Linked DNA regions of Homo sapiens: region 2 is linked to region 1. A link means that fine-mapping ties the variant in region 1 to the expression of a gene that starts in the linked region. Tissue or cell type: whole blood. Region 1 holds a variant in brackets; the other region holds the start of a gene. All regions are shown on one strand. Distances are from middle to middle.

Region 1 (5,148 bases):
CTGTTAAGAGAATGAAAAATTGGCCAGACATGGGGCTCATGCCTGTAATCCCAGCACTTTGGGAGGCCGAGGCGGGTGGATCACCTGAGGTCGGGAGTTCCAGATCAGCCTGACCAACATGGAGAAACCCCATCTCTATTAAAAATACAAAATTAGCCGGGTGTGGTGGCACATGCCTGTAATCCCAGCTACTCAGGAGGATGAGGCAGAAGAATTGCTTGAACCTGGGAGGCGGAGGTTGTAGTGAGCTGAGATCACGCCATTGCACACCCCAGCCTGGGCGACAGAACGAGACTCCGTCTCAGAACAAAAATGAATGAAAAGTAAAGGCAGAGACTAGGAAAAAACATTTGCAAAACATGTCTACAAAAGGCTTGAACCCAGAGTGTATTATTAACTCTCTAAACCCAACAGGAAAGAAACATAATTTTTTAAGAATAGACAAATTTAAACAGATACTTCATCAAATAAGATGTGGATACAAATAAAAAGAAAAAAAAGATGTGGATAAGTAGATGCCAAGAACTATCAGTCATTAGGGATATTATGCAAATTAAAATGGCAAGAGATACCACTATGTACCTATTAGAATGGCTTAAAAAAGAGACGATACCAATTGCTGAGCAACTGGAACTCATACATTGCAGGTGGGAAGGTAAAATTGTGATGACATTTTGGGAAAGAGTATCTTATAAAGTCAGACATTCAATTACCATATGACCAAATTTCTTATATGAAAACCTATAAAGGAATAGTATGGCTTTATTTATTATCACCAAAACCGGAAATAACCAAGATATACTTCAACTGGTGATTGGATAAACATAGTGATATATGCATATGATGAAATACTACTCTGTGGTAAAAGAGAACATACTGTATGATTCCATTTATATGACTTTTTTTTTTTTTTGAGATGGAGTCTTGCTCTGTCTCCCAGGCTGGAGTGCACTGATGCCACCTTGGCTCACCGCAACCTCTGCCTCTTGGGTTCAGGCAATTCTCGTGCCTCAGCCTCCTGAGTAGCTGGGACTACAGGAGCCTGCCACCACACCCAGCCACTTTTTGTATTTTTAGTAGAGATGGGGTTTCACCATATTGGCCAGGCTGGTCTCAAACTCCTGACCTCAAGTGATCCACTTGCCTCCACCTCCCAAAGTGCTGGGATTACAGGCGTGAGCCACCACGCCCAGCCAATATGATAATTCTTTAAAAGGCAAAATTATAGGAATAGAAAACAGATCAGTAGTTGCAGAGGCTGGGGACTGGGTGTGGTGGGGGAGGGCAGGCGGAGGAGTTGATTACAAATGGGCATCATGAGGGAATTTTTGAGAGTGATCAGACTTGATTGTGGTGGTAGTTACACAGCTGTATACATTTGTCAAATCTCATAGACCTCTAAACCAAAAAGAGTGAATTTTACTGTATGTTTTTTAAAAATGAGTAAATCTATGTCCTACAGGACCATGTATATGAGCTAGAGTCATCTCTAAGAACCAGTCTTACTCAGAAATTGCAGATACTAGATTTTTAACTATTTTTTTAGTTTTGCTCAATAATGATGTACTTTTACAGCACCATATTCCAAAATGTCATTAAGCCTCCTAGTCCGCCTCATATTAATAATTCTCAAGTCCAGGTGCAGTGGCTCACACCTGTAATCCCAGCACTTTGGGAGGCCGAGGCAGGCAGATCACGAGGTCAAGAGATCGAGACCAGCCTGGCCAGTATGGTGAAATCCCATCTCTACTAAAAATACAAAAATTAGCTGGGTGTGGTGGCACACGCCTGTAGTCCCAGCTACTCAGGAGGCTGAGGCAGGAGAATCGCTTGAACCCGGGAGGCAGAGATTGCAGTGAGCTGAGATTGCACCACTGTACTCCAGTCTGGCGACAGAGTGAGGCTGTGTCTCAAAAAAATAATAATAATTCTCTTCCAAGTGGAAATTCTGTAACTTGAGAGGAAATGAGAAAGTATGAATAATGATGAACTTATTTTAGATGTTTTCACTGAGTCTTCAGAGAGGCTCACTTGTAATTGACAGTTTCAGCCCTGCCAGAGGAAGAATTTGCCAGGGAAAGGACTCTTATTTTTAAAAATTGTAGGAAAAAATGTGGAAAGAACCTGTTTTTTTTTTAAATTTCCTTATAATAGGAATGAAAAATCAGGAAAAGTTTTCTTGAATTGTGGTAAAGTCAAGTGTGAGAACTTTGGACTTTGAAGTCATGAATGTAAACCATATTCTTCCCTGACTAGCTGTGTGTATGACTTTGG[G/C]AAAGTTTTTCAGCACTCCTGAACCTCATTTCCTTTCCTCAGTTTTAAAATCAAGTGATCAAACATACCTTTCTGAGTAGTTATTAGGTTAGACAAAATATATAAAGCATCCAGCACAGTTTCTGGCACACAGTAGGTAATCAGTAAATGTTAATTCCTTTTTAATGAACATTTCCTATGCCAGTCAGTCCAGTTAGGTCTCAGGCTACAAGTTCTTACTCACTTTCTGTGGGATGTGGTTCCAATATCAGTTCAGTTTTCTTTTTCTTTTTTTTTTCTTTTTTTTGAGACAAAGTTTCTCTCTTGTTGCCCAAGCTGGAGTACAATGGGGTGATCTCGGCTTACTGCAATCTCTGCCTGCCAGGTTCAAGCAATTCTCCTGCCTCAGCCTCCCGAGGAGCTGGAATTACAGGCGCCTGCCACCATGCCTGGCTAATTTTTGTATTTTTAGTAGAGACGGGGTTTCGCCATGTTGGCCAAGCTGGTCTCAAACTCCTGACCTCAAGTGATCCACCCACCTCGGCCTCCCAAAGTGCTGGGATTACAGGCGTGACCCACCGCGACCGGCCATCAGTTTAGTTTTCAAAGCCTCTGCAATGCTATTCTGATCTGCGGTGCTATTCTGATCTATTCTGTGTGTATGTCACCTAGGGGTCAGTTTGGGAACCAGGAGGTGGTCTGTATATTAGTTCAGCTGTCAAAGTCCTGAGTATGCTAATTAGAATCAGATTCTTACCTGTGCAGCTGCAGGGTGAGCCTAGGAATTCACAAACAAATTCATGGTCTTTCTCAAGCTCCTCCCTTCCTGTGCCTTCTTTGGTACTTTCTGGTTCCCTGGAGCTCCCCTTTCTTGACCTCTAGCCAGAAACCTAGGGCTCTGGTTGGCCTGCACTACCATGAAGTCCCACAATTTCACTTGTATCTAGGATCAAATGGCAGGAGATCAGAGAGAAAGGAAAAAAGCAAAAGGGGGATTGGCCCCATCTTCCTGGAATCACCATTCTACCAAACAGAGAGGCAGTTCCCCCTGCCTTAGAGGTGTGGCTCTTGCAGGGGTTTCTTTTGTTGCTACCTCTGCTGCTATCACACCATCACAGGATTTCCTGGTGGCTGAGATGTAAGAGAACCAATAAAAGAGAGGGGGACTCCTGTACTCTCTCTGAGCTTTAGGAGTTCCATTTCCTGGTCCTCAAACCAGAGCTAGAGAGATTTTCCCAGACATCTTTCTGTATCACAGCACTCGCTTTTGGATTTCTGGCTAGAAGTTCAGGCTTGTCAACCTAAAAGGAAGAAGCTGAGGCAAAATTAATGTAAGTAGAAGGTTTATTTGGGCCAAGGTTGAGTATTGCAACCCAGAAGCATAGATTGAAGTTGCCCTGGATGTATACTTCAGTTAGCAGTTACAGGTGGATTTTTGTTTTTTATTTTAAAAAGTTTTCTTCATTTCATTTTGGTTTTTAGAGACAGGGTCTCTCTCTATCACCCAGGCTGGTGTGCTGTGGTGTGATCATAGCTCACTGCGGCCTTGGACTCCTGGGCTTAAGCAATCCTTCTGCCTCAGCCTCCTGAATAGTTAGTACTACAGGTGTGTGCTAATTTTTTTATTTTTGTAGAGACAGGGTCTCACTATGTTGTCCAGGCTGGTCTTGAACTCCAGGCCTCAGATGATCTTCTTACCTTGGCTTCCCAAAGTGCTGGGATTACAGGCTTGAGCCACCATACCCAGCAAGCAAGTGGAGTTTTAAAAGCAAAAGAAGGGGACAGGGAGTGGGCTGATAAAAAGTTGTGTGTCAGGAATTCTCATTGGTTTACAGAAATAACATTGACTAGTGATTGGCTATACATTGTTAAGCAATAGGTAGGGTGTGGGTTATAGTGTCTGGTGTGACATTATTAGGTTTATTTCTAGCTACTTGTGGCAGTAGCAAGCATTTTCAGGAGAGGGATACATGGGTCAAAGTGGGTAGTAGAGCGTGATTGCAGTCTCATCTTAATGTCTCTATTGGCCTGATAATTAAAAGGACTTGCATTCCTCAGATGAAAGTTATTTTCTCAGTCTGGAGGTACCAAAGAGAGAAAGGGGAGGTAAATTCCTTGCCATTTCCATAGTACTTTGAATTCTGGTATTCTACTCTGATTCATCTTCTGTTTACTTTTCAGAAAGCTTAAGTACCTATTCTGTGAATTCTGTTCAGGTTTTAAGGTTTCAGTCAGTGGGAAGGACAGGGTGTAGTGTGTCTACTCCGTATTACCTGCAACCAGACCTTGAATCATATTACTACCTTGAAAAAAAAAAAAACTTTGTTAGTTCTCCATTGTCTCTAGGGTTAAGTGCCATTTTAGCACCTCAATTCCCCAGGTGCATGTATTTCATATTCAAGCCAAACAAGACTATTTGTTGATGCTGGGGAGAAGAGAACTTTCCCTCTACCCTTTGAACATTCAGTATTTGAGTATGTGAGATAAACTGACAGTAGATAGATTAGCAGGGAAAAAAAAAGGCAAAATTTATTATGTGTTTGTACATAAGAGTCTCACAAAATATCAAACTTGAAGGCCAGATGATTGACATTTTTATGGCATCCTGAGCTACAGAAAGGAATAGGGACTTGAGGGGAGGTGGTGACAACCTATGGGACTATGAGGGGAGGAAATGCACGGTGAGCAAAGCTTGCCTTGTTATGCAGATAAAAAGTCTCTCCTATAATACAAGTTGTCTGGAGCAGCCCTCAGAAGAATAGGTGATAGCCTGTGACAGAGTCTGGGGTGTTGACCGTTAGTCTCTTCTTCTGTGATACAGTTAATCTACCCCAGTTGATAAGATTCCCAGGGAGGGCATAAATAACAATTGAGCTCCTTTTTGAAGGATCTATC
Region 2 (5,148 bases), 130 kb before region 1:
AACTTAGATGGCAAGTCCTCTTAGCAAGGCTGGCCTAATTCTATGTTTTCTATGGCACCTAGTCACTATGGCTGTGCAAGAGCCATTATTACCCAAAGTACCATAATAATGGTCATGTCCTCCTATGACGTTATTGTTTCCTATCTGTCAGGACATTAATTGTCTTCTAACTTGCTCTAAAATTGGTAGCATGGCACACTGCCAAGACTAGAGAGAAGCAAGCTGCTGGTGATATATTAAAAGGCTGTGTAAAAGGACATATTGGTATTTGCTTTTTCTTGGGGCATCTTCACATTTGCATTACTTCACATGTTATGGGATGTTAGCTCAGGCTTGCCTTATGTCTTGGCGTCTATCTTATCATGGTCAATGTCTGATCTTTCCTTCAGCTGAATGATTCAGACATCTCTAAGTTATTTTGGCTTTTCCACTTTCCTTTCACAGGCTTTTTGTGAGTCATTGAATTGAATGGGAGGTTATTTCTAAATTGGAAGGTGAGGAAGAGAGGAGGGGGAGGAAAGTTCCGGAAAATAACTAGGAAAAGGCACTTTATTGTTATGTATAGTTACTGGAGGAATAATTTCTGCTTAGTCTGGTGATAGAAGTATGTACTTTATTTAAACTTGACTAAAAATATAGGCTAGAAAAAAGACAATATTTTTCTGAATAATAAACCATACAGTTTTAGACTCTTTGTAGCTTGCTCTGCAAAGAACAAGGAGGTTAGTAAATAGAAGAAATATGAGACAAAGGGTTAGCAGAAAGAAGAAAGAGACAAAGCACATTTCCAAAGTCCACATCCTTGAGGTGAATGCCTCCTTGACAGTGTCTTTTTTTTTTTTTTTTTTTAAGACAGAGTCTCACTCTGTTGCCCAGGCTGGAGTGCAGTGGCACCATCTGCAGAGACAGGGGTTTCACCATGTTAGTCAGGCTGGTCTCAAACTCCTGACCTCAGGTGATCTGCCCGGCTCGGCCTCCCAGAGTGCTGGGATAACAGGCATGAGCCACCGCACGGCCTGACAGTGTCTTAAACTATCCCTGGGTGTTGTTTCATGGCCCATGGGTATATGTATCATAGGTGGGGTTGTGAGAAAGTACATTTAAATCTGATTTAGAAACTGAAAGAGTAATCAGACCAGCATTTTGTTATTTAGGAGCAGGAAAAGTGGGTGAAAAAAAAGGAAAAACAAAAAGCTAATGATGAATATATTTCTAGGAGCACAAGAGTTTTTATAGCAACATTAGATTTCTCAAAAATGCCTACTGTGATTTGTACCCAAGTGAATAAAAAATGCAATCATTTATTCTTGTGCATTGTGCCAAGTGAGGAAAAAAAAAAAACACACACACACACAACCCGGCAATTCATTCAATGGCCCTAATTTAGACTGCTAGGAAGAGGTTTAGAAAAAAAAAAGAGAGAGAGAGAGAGAAGCTTTTAAAGTATCTGACACACAGCTAGTAGGGCTATTTAAGAACTGCTGAACAGAAAAACAAAGTGGCAGTGAGAGGTGGGGGAAAGCAGAATTCTCATTTCCAGAGCATCATAAAGGGTATAATGTGGCCCGCTTATTAGAAAGTTGCTGGCCGGGCGCGGTGGCTTACGCCTGTAATACCAGCACTTTGGGAGGCCGAGGCGGGCGGATCACCTGAGGTTGGGAGTTCGAGACTAGCCTGACCAACATGGAGAAACCCCGTCTCATGCCTATAATCCCAGCTACTCGGGAGGCTAAGGCAGAAGAATCGCTTGAACCTGGGAGGCGTAGGTTGCGATGAGCCGAGATAGCACCATTGCACTCCAGCCTGGGCAACAAGAGAGAAACTCCGTCTCACAGAAAAAAAAAAAAAAAAAAAAAGTTGCTAATGGCTGTCTGGTCAATTGGCAGGGGTCAGCCAGGAGTGGATCTGGAAGCTGGAGAACTCTCAATACGCCACTTCAGTTTATTGACGACATTTATAATTGCAACCGAAGTTGACTGATTTCTGCTAAATGAAAGTTTGCGCTTTGCCCTTTAGCATTGAGGCTCCTGGAAAGAACTTCAATGAAATTGGATGCATTGAGACCAAAGAAAAGAAGGGGACATTTTTATCTCTCTGATACCTTTCTCCCCAGGGCTTGGAAACACTTCTTAAACACAACCTCTAATGTTGGTGTTTTGTAAGTACTACCCCTATGAATAAAGCTAGCAGAGATAAGCTTCTCCTTGCAGGAAGTGAGCTGGAGAAGTGGAAAAGTTTACAGAGAAAACTCTACAACAAAGACTTAACCCTTCCCGGGTAACCACGAATGTGAGCGTCTGCCCCTCCTTTGCTTTCTACTGCGCAACCAAACTGTGCACAAGCGTGAATCAACCTTAACCGTCACGTCTCTTGCCAGTTAGCTTAACAGACACTTTTAGCAGCCTATCATAACTTCGAATTGCCCAACCCTCAACCAATTACAACTAAAGCTTGGGCTAGGACGCTCCAGGTCCGGGCGGGGGCGAATACCGGGTTTAGGAAAAGGGGCGGTAAAGAGCGATGACGGGCGGGTATACTAAACCAATCAGAGAGGAGAGCTGCCGCCCCACTATCCAATGGATAGGTTAGAAGTATGAAAGAGGGTGGGCCTGTTGTCATGGGGGAGGTGGTGGCGCTTGGTGGCCACTGGCGGCCGAGGTAGAGGCAGTGGCGCTTGAGTTGGTCGGGGGCAGCGGCAGGTGAGTGCCGGTAACGCGGGTCAGAGATCTGGGGGCCGTCGCGGGGCGGAATCTCCAGCTCAGCACTCCGGAGGCGGAGGCCGGAGGAAGGGGGCCTGGACTTCGGGTCGGGGCCCGGGCCGGGGCCGGGGCCAGGGCGGAGGCGGCGGGGGCGGCGGCGAGTTCGCGCTGACTGGGCTAGGGGGAGAGGGGCTGGGCTTCTGGCTGCGGAGTTCTCCCGAGGAAGGTAGGCTACGGCCGGACCCGCGCGGGTCAGGCCAGGAGGTCCCTTGGGACGTCCAGCTGCTCCGGTCTAGCGCGCTGACCGGCGGCCACTGTGTGAGGAGTAGGTATCTGAGGAAACGGAAGCGGCCAGGGTCCCAGAGAGGGGGTGACCTGTAACGACCTGCTTCAAGGGCGGGGTGTCTTGGGAATACCCAGGACGGCTTGGGTGCCAGGGAGAAAAGGAATCCGGGAAGCCCGGCAGCGGCCGGTGAGGAGAGAGCGGGGTGGGGGGCAGGGGAACTGGGAGTGGCCCCGGTCCGAGGGAGGTAGGAAGGCCGAGGGTGGCCAGGGTCCCGGGTGACAGGGAGCAGACTTGCTCCAAGTAGGGGCGTCTGAGGAAACGCTCGGAGGGGGTTGGGGACCCTCCTGAGAAAAGCGGCTGTCCAAGGGAGGGGGCTCCTGGAGAGATGAGGAGCAGCAGGTCTTCGGAGGGTCGGACGAGTAGAGATCTTGCACCGCCTGGGGGAAGAACCGGAGCTCCCTGCGCCCCCATAGCTGAGCTGGGATGGGAGACCCAACTGGCCTGGCCGCTCCGGCTCTGAGGATCCCTAAGGGACCAGGAAAGAAGTCCTCGAGGAGTGGCTCGCGTTTGAGACCGGGGTGAGGAGCCAGCAGGGGAGTGGAAGTTCCCTCGGTCGGAGAGGAGTCATGCAAAATGGGACGGAGATGGGCGGAGGTGGGAGAGAATCCCTATAGGAGGGGATAAGGTAGAGAAAGAAAGTTGCCCGAGGAGAGAGTAATGGTTTCGTGGAACTGGCTAGGACAGTAGATATATGAGAAATTAACAGTGGAGCCATGTAGGTTCACAGGTCTTCACAAATAGAAGAAACTTCAGTTTCGTAATTAATATCAAGATGACATCTAGGACCAAAGCAAAGCTCCTAAAAGCAAGGTTAAGTGACTTGTTTTAGAAAAGAAATTTGTTTTAGGATGATGGCAGTAATATTAGGAAATAGGTTCATTGACAGGGTGGGGAATTTGGGAGGGAAAAGGGGAGGAGTAGCTGAACTAAAGGAGTAGAAGTAAATACTTATCAGAAAGAGGGTAGGCATACTCGGCTAAAGTGAAAAGAAGTTTTGAGTTCTAGTTCCACCACTTAGCTAAGTTTCTGTGCAGTTTCCTCATCAGAATACTAATAGTAATAGTTCCTACTTTATAAGGTGGTGGTGGTGTTTTTTTTTTCATGTGAGTTGGTATTTGTAGAGCTTTTAGGATAGTGACTGGCACATAGTCGTGTGTACTGGATTGTTCAATAGACGATAAAGACCTGACTTCTTAAATAGAAGGTAAAGACCTGGCTCGCAGATGTTAGCTTGCATCAAAATCACCTGGAGGGCTTGGTAAAATGTAGATTGCTTGGCCCCACCTGGGGGTTTCAGTAGGTCTGGGGTGGGGCCCAATAATTTATATTTATCTCAAATGATGATCACGTTGGTCAGAGGACCACACTTTAAGAACCACTTACTTTAATGAAACCGGTAATAATGGTAGCAACTTTAAAATACCTGCTAAAGAGACAGGTAGAGGCAAATTGCCTAAAAGATCCTATTATAAAGGATACTCATTTTTAGCCTGTGTTTTTCAAACTGTGGATTGTGATTTATTAGTAATTTATAAAATCAATGTTGTGAGTTTTTACCTGCATTGAAAATAAAATGTAGAACAGAATAAACTGACATTGCATTTGGTAAGGAAAAGTATTGTTTTGGGAAACTTTTCTCCTACATGTATGTACTAGGTCACAATGTAAAGTGTATTTCTTTTTTTGAGTTCCTGGCCAAAGGATAAAATATATTTCTTACAGTTAAAAAAGTCTGAAAGCTGGGTGCGGTGGCTCACGCCTATAATCCCAGCACTTTGGGAGGCCAAGGCGGGCGGATCACTTGAGGTCAGGAGTTCAAGATCAGCCTGACCAACATGGTGAGACCCCCATCTTTAAAAAAAATACAAAATTAGCTGGGCGTGGTGGCGCGTGCCTGTAATCCCAGCTACTTGGAAGGCTGAGGCTGGAGAATTGCTTGAACCCCGGAGGTGGAGGTTGCAGTGAGCCGAGATCATGCCATTGCATTCCAGTCTGGGCAACAAGAGTGAAACTCCATCTTAAAAAAAAAAAAAAAGGTTTTTTTGGGAGTATTATATTCCATTAAATTTCTTCAGTTTCTGATTTGGTTCCTCCTGTGTTTGT

Evidence for each region. PIP is the estimated chance that this variant, and not a neighbour inherited with it, causes the effect.
Region 2: it holds the start of NUMB, and the variant in region 1 is fine-mapped to the expression of NUMB in whole blood (INTERVAL, PIP 0.97).

What each region holds. Positions count from the first base shown.
Region 1 is chr14:73,324,040-73,329,187 of GRCh38, reverse strand. The region is part of intron 4 of NUMB (NUMB endocytic adaptor protein); the gene reads left to right. Among named protein-coding and RNA genes, the nearest start is that of PAPLN-AS1, 81 kb to the right of the region's middle. The variant G/C (reference allele first, on the strand shown) is at 2,275.
Region 2 is chr14:73,456,044-73,461,191 of GRCh38, reverse strand. It overlaps NUMB (NUMB endocytic adaptor protein), which reads left to right and starts at 2,646. Exons shown (of 13, transcript NM_001005743.2): 1 at 2,646-2,699. It overlaps LOC101928143 (a long non-coding RNA gene), which reads left to right. Exons shown (of 3, transcript NR_135251.1): 3 at 1-257. RefSeq lists enhancers at 1,250-1,783, 1,784-2,317 and silencers at 2,303-2,502, 2,693-2,782, 2,793-2,922.